Linked DNA regions of Homo sapiens. The protein of the gene in region 1 purifies or fractionates together with the protein of each later gene. This does not show direct contact. Each region holds a gene or a part of one and is shown on either strand. Other genes may lie near its edges.

Region 1 (3,500 bases):
TGCAGTCATCACAGAGGCAGGCTGGTCCGCCTTCGAGGTGAGTTGCAGGCAGGCTGAGCAGCAGAAACCATGTGGTAGGTGCCCATGCTTGAGCAGGAATGGGGGTGGACCCCATCTAGGTCGCTGCCGGACTAGCCGCAGTGATGCCTGACAGCTGGAAAATGTCAAAAAGTAATCAAGAGGGAGCCCAGGATCGGGGAAGTAGGCTGGGGTGTCAGCAAAGGCTATTGTCTGGCGGGGGGCCGGTATCACACAAACAGCCCAAGCCCTAGGCACAAATACTCAATGAATTCAGCTCTGGGGGCTTTGTGGCTAGCTCTGAGGCTGGAGGGCACTTCATCCCCGTCTAAATCCTTCAGCAAAGCACTTTGGGGTGGCCCAAGATTCCAGCCTGACTGCAAGGTGACTGTGGTTGCTAACACGGCAAACTCCAGGAAGAGTACCTTGGTCCAGCCAGTGAGGGCTGCTCCCAGAGCTGACTTCCCTTCCCTCCCTTCGTGGTTTTACCCCACTCGGCCTTTGTGTCCCTGAGGAGCGCATCTTCCCCAATGTGCATGCGCATCAAAGCGTTCCTACTCTGCACTCGTTCCAGCTCTACAACATCTCCAGATTCGGAGGATCAAACTTGTACCCCATAGTCTCAGAGCAACTGAATCTCGGCATGAACAAAGGGAATTAGAGAATGCTTTCCCTTAAAAACAAAATCCCTATCCCTGTGGCTGATCCACGGAGACATACACACACCCTTGGAGACAAGACCTCACAGCTACAGCCCTGTCCTCCCCAAAGAAACTAAGATACAGACCAACAAGTACACACAAGTACATACAGGGATATTCACATATAGGGTAGTAAATTCCCTGTGTAGGGAATGCAGCCAGTGAGATAGAGCCAGGTAGAAGGGCTCTTCTCACAAAGCTGCTGCACAAACCCTGGCCACAAACTTCTGCCTGGCTCAAGGCTTTTTCCCTCCATCACCAAGTCAGCCCGTTATGCTGCCAAAAGCATATGCCCTAGTGCTCTTGAAGGCCATAGTCTGATGCCAGGGATGCTTAAGCTGGGCACTGTTTGGCCACAGTGACACCAGGCAGGGCCGGGGGACTTGGGGTCAAGTGTATTGACATCCCACTGAAATGCAGGGGCAGGTGTGCTACTGAAGTCGGTCCCTATGAAAATGCTGCTCAATTTTGCCTGGTGGGTCACACTTGCCCTGACCCCTTTGCTTATATGTCATGGGGCTCCATCTTAATGAGGGAAGTAGGGTTGAATGGGGAGAAAGGGGCTGGGGTGGGGGATCTTGTCAGAAGGCTCCCAGATGTGGTCACACTAGGCTCAGCCATCAGCAGGGACCCTGAGCCTGAGGAGAGCTCAAGTTCAGCCACTGGGGTCAGCCCAACAGTGGGGCGGCTGGGAGGAGACAAAGTCTGGTTGCCCAGAAGGCTCGGATTGTGGGAACCCCTGGAAACCACCTGGGTTGGAAGTGGCTGAAGATGAGCCTGATCTCTCAGGAGCTCCCTCAGGGTCTCTTCAGGAACCAGCAGCCCCTCCATGGGGGCCCCCGTCACCATACCCTGAACATAGGAGGAGGACCTCAGTGGCCCCTCCTTGACCCTAGGGGCTGCTGTAGTGCCAGAAGTCCTGATGAAGGCAGCAATGACAGTCCCAGGGGGCTGAGAGCTGGGCCCTGCTGGTCCAGCCCCTGTGACCGTGGGTGGCGCCGGGTTGGTCGGACGGTTGGCCCCAGCCAGAAGTTGGGGGAGGCCACTGAGAATCAGTGGAGCCCCTGGGGCTGCCACCTGGCTGTCTTGGAAACTGGCGTTCAGGGGGAAAGAGGCCTGCAAAGTGAAGGTGTCCTTGAAAGTAGAGGCCGCTGGAACACTCTGGAGAACGAGCTGAGTGGGAGCAGTAGTACTGGCAGGAGGCCCATTGGTCAGCACCGTGGTCAGTGGGATCGTCTGCAGGGTCAGGGCCGAGCCCGACCCCACGGGGGCCACTCCTAGGTGGATGTTGCTGGGCACTGAAGATGCACTGAGAAGAAACAGAGAACAGAGTTGGTTAAGGCAGGAAGTGTCCCTCAGCTGGTTAGGAAGGAGGGCACGAGAGGAATGGAGCTGAAGGTGTTTGTCGATTTATTTGCTGTTTGTTGTTTTTTTCTTTTTCTAGAGACAGGGTCTCACTCTGCTGCCCGGGATGGAGTGCAGTGACACGATTACTGCTCACTGCAGCCTTGAAGCCCTGGGCTCAAGCGATCCTCCTGACTCAGCCTCCCAAGTAGCTGGGACTACAGGTGTGTGCCACCACACCCAGCTAATTTTTAATTTATTTTTTTTTTTGAGACGGAGTCTTGCTCTGTCACTCAGGCTGGAGTGCAGTAGTGCAATCTTGGCTTACTGCAACTTCTGCCTCTGAGGTTCAAGTGATTCTCCTGCCTCAGCCTCCCAAGTAGCTGGGATTATAGGCGAGCACCACTACACCCGGCTAATTTTGTATTTTTAGTAGAGACAGAGTTTCACCATGTTGGCCAGGCTGGTCTTGAACTCCTGACCTCAGGTGATCCACCTGCCTCGGCCTCCCAAAGTGCTGGGATTACAGGTGTGAGCCACCATGCTCAGCTGTAGCTCACATTTATTAAGTACTTAGAATAGGTATATAGGTCAGGGATCATTCTAAATGATTGACATGTGGCATTTCACTCAATCCTGAAAACAGCCCACAAGTGGGATAAGAACAATCTGATTTTACAGCTTGAGGAAAGTGAGGCACAGAGAGGTTATGTATTAATAACTTGCTCCAAGACCAGCCATACCTATGTTATCCTTTGATTTCTTCCAAGTGGGGATGCTGGGGTCTCACAAGGCCTTGATGTGAGTCCCCGCTCTAGTGATTACACAGCCAGTATACATAGTAAGCACTACAGCAGGGCCTCACAACTAGGTCTTGTGATCCCAGAGCTCATCTTCCTCACCATTCCACTCTACTGCCTGCCCTCCTCGAAAGGGTGTCTCACTGCGCCAGCGTAGTGACTGCCTGCCCTCCTCGAAAGGGTGTCTCACTGTGCCAGTGTAGTGGGAGGTCCAAACACATAACCCAACAAAGTCCAACCTTCTCAGGGAAAATCGGAGGCCCCTTAGTGGGGATGAGAAGTAGTTGGAGCTAGCCGGGTGGGCCTGGAGGTCCCAAGGGGCTCACAGCAGGCAGCTCTAAAACATTCTCTGTTGCTTCTTTTCTAGAATGGAGGAGGCTTAGGAGGATGGGCCAGGACACGGACGCCCTGGTGGCTCCCTGGGGAGCCCCTCTCGTGTAAGCCCCCGGATGTGTGACCTCAGGCAAGTGACTTCCCCTCTCTTGACCAACAAGTGCCCTACTGGCTTTTCCATGGCTCTGGGAGGATCCCATGAGCCTGGCGACAGAGTAGAGCTTGGCAAGAAGTTGAAAACTGAGCCCTGCTAGGCACGGTGGCTCACATCTGTAATCCCAGCACTTTAGGAGGCCAAGGCGGG
Region 2 (2,367 bases), on another chromosome or scaffold:
AAAATTATTTGAGTAACACTTTTCTCAATTCTCCTAAAGATGGTAGATAGAAGAAAATGTGTTACATACAGTAGATGAAGGAGGGCTTGTCTTGAGGAACCCAGACTGACAAAGGCTGCAACACACCGGCAGCATGCTGTAGATGCTGGCTGTTGCTGTTACTGTCTGTACTATCAGTGGGATTTTCTGGCTAGCCTTTCATTCACATTTTCAACTTTCTACCTATGAAGTTTTAGAAATCTAGTTGATTTGGCCCTGGACCTGTGACTCAGGAAAAGTCACCTGATTCTCAATCTTTCATCTGAAAATGGGACTGTTAACATTTGCTTAGCTGACTGCACCTGAGACAGCATGTAAATTCTGGTACTTTACAAGCTCAGAATGAGCGTGCAGCTGGAAGGGAAAGTTGTCATCATGGTGTTTAAGCAGGAGGAAAGGCAGTTAAAGAGAAGGTGATGGTGTTCATCTGTTGTCAGACTCCAAGCAGGTATCAGTGAGTTATCCTGAAGAGGGGAAGAGGAGGTAACTGTACACTCAGCATGTTAGTCCCAGGTTCTACTTTCCAGTCACATCTGCAACCTTTTAGTTTAGCAGCAGTTAAGAACTAGGTGCTTATTTATTTAAAATGTCTTCCTTTTCCTTCCAAACCTTAACTAGCACTTTTCGAAGAACTTCAGAGCTTGGATATTTTCTTGGCTGAACTCTACAAGTAAGTTTTCTAAAAATTTCTTTCCCAAAAACTTACTCAGGAATCACTTAGATATAAGAAATGTTCTTTCCAGGCCAGTAATCCCAGCTATTTGGGAGGCTGAGGCAGGAGAATCGTTTGAACCGGGGAAATGGAGGTTGCAGTGAGCTGAGATTGCACCATTGCACTCCAGCCTGGGCGACAAGAGTGAAACTCCGTCTCAAAAAAAAAAAAAGTTCTTTCCAGGCCAGGCGCAGTGGCTCATGCCTGTAATCCCAGCACTTTGGGAGGCCAAGGCAGGCGGGTTGCTTGAGGCCAGAAGTTTGAGACCAGCCTGACCAACATGGCAAACGAAACCCCATCTCTACCAGAAATACAAAAAGTAGCTGAGTGTGGTGGCACATGCCTGTAATCCCAGCTAATTAGGGTGGCTGAGGCAGGAGAATCGCTTGAAGCTGGGAGGCAGAGGTTGCAGTGAGCCGCGATCACACCCCTGCACTCCAGCCTGAGTGACAGAATGAGACTGTCTTAAAGAATAAAAAAAAGCTCTTCCCAGAGATTTTCACTGAGTTTTTCTTTTATCTTTAGGCATCTTGACAGCAGTAGCAATGAGCGTCCAGACATCAGTTCCATCCAGAGACGTATTAAGGTATCCAAATGGGATTTGGGAGAAAACTTGGGAAATAAGTTTAAATGCTTTTTTCACATTCCTGATTTATTATAGAGACTAGCATTCAACTACTGCTCAATAAATATTTGTTGAATGAGCCAAGAATCAATCTTGTTCTTTGTTTTAGAAAGTAACTCATGACATGGACATGTGCTATGGGATGATGGGAAGCCTGTTTCGCAGTGGCTCCCGGCAGACCCTTTTTGCCAGTCAAGTGATGCGTTATGCTGACCTCTATGCAGCATCTTTCATCAACCTGCTGTATTACCCTTTCAGCTACCTCTTCAGGGCTGCCCATGTCTTGGTGAGTTAAAGCTGTAATGGACAGCCAAGATGTACTCTAAGCCCAGGGTCAGCAACCACCTTTGTGAGATGGCACAGGAGATAGTTTGAACATTTCTTTCTGATGTACAGAGCCCAGGGGCAGGTTATATGGTTGCATAAGAAGGGGTCTTTGAGAAAGTAGAACCAACATTGGAAGTTAAGAGTGTAACTTTACTCTCTGAAGTCTACTCTATTAAAAGCTGTATGTGGGCCAGGCATGGTGGCTCATGCCTGTAACCCCAGAACTTTAGAGGCTGAGGTGGGAGGATTGATTGAGCCCAGGAAGTCGAGGCTGCAGTGGGCTGTGATTGCTCCACTGTACTCCAGCCTGGGTGACAGCGAGAGACCATCTCAAGAAAAAGAAAATGTGGTTTTTACATTCCTTTATTCTGATCTGTTTCAGGACTATCTTGTTTTTGCTGTAAAATAGAAAGTAAACTCCCCTCTCCATCTTTTCCAATTTCCAGCTGCAGTAGACAATATGGGCACCATTTTGAGGGGCAGGGAGAGAGGAAGACAGGCAACTATAAGTAGTTCTATGAAGATAAGTCTATATTGACTTGTCCTGTGGTCCATTATAGATGTAATTGCATGGCCACCTAACAGAGGAGAGGGGTTAGGATTTGGGGAGTAGCTACTTTGCTCTGCCTGCTTTCTGAGCCTCTAGCTTTTTTCTGTCTAGATG

What was found.
Region 2: the proteins of ELF4 (region 1) and NT5C2 purify together in Homo sapiens (affinity purification with mass spectrometry; one large-scale study listed by BioGRID and IntAct). This does not show direct contact.

What each region holds. Positions count from the first base shown.
Region 1 is NC_000023.11:130,065,498-130,068,997, forward strand, and holds part of ELF4 (ETS-related transcription factor Elf-4), read right to left. Parts: intron 2,029-3,500; coding exon 1,224-2,028; 3' UTR 1-1,223. UniProt on the Homo sapiens protein: Transcriptional activator that binds to DNA sequences containing the consensus 5'-WGGA-3'. Transactivates promoters of the hematopoietic growth factor genes CSF2, IL3, IL8, and of the bovine lysozyme gene.
Region 2 is NC_000010.11:103,089,906-103,092,272, reverse strand, and holds part of NT5C2 (cytosolic purine 5'-nucleotidase), read left to right. Parts: intron 1-657; coding exon 658-709; intron 710-1,276; coding exon 1,277-1,337; intron 1,338-1,485; coding exon 1,486-1,662; intron 1,663-2,050; exon of another isoform or gene 2,051-2,364; coding exon 2,365-2,367. UniProt on the Homo sapiens protein: Broad specificity cytosolic 5'-nucleotidase that catalyzes the dephosphorylation of 6-hydroxypurine nucleoside 5'-monophosphates.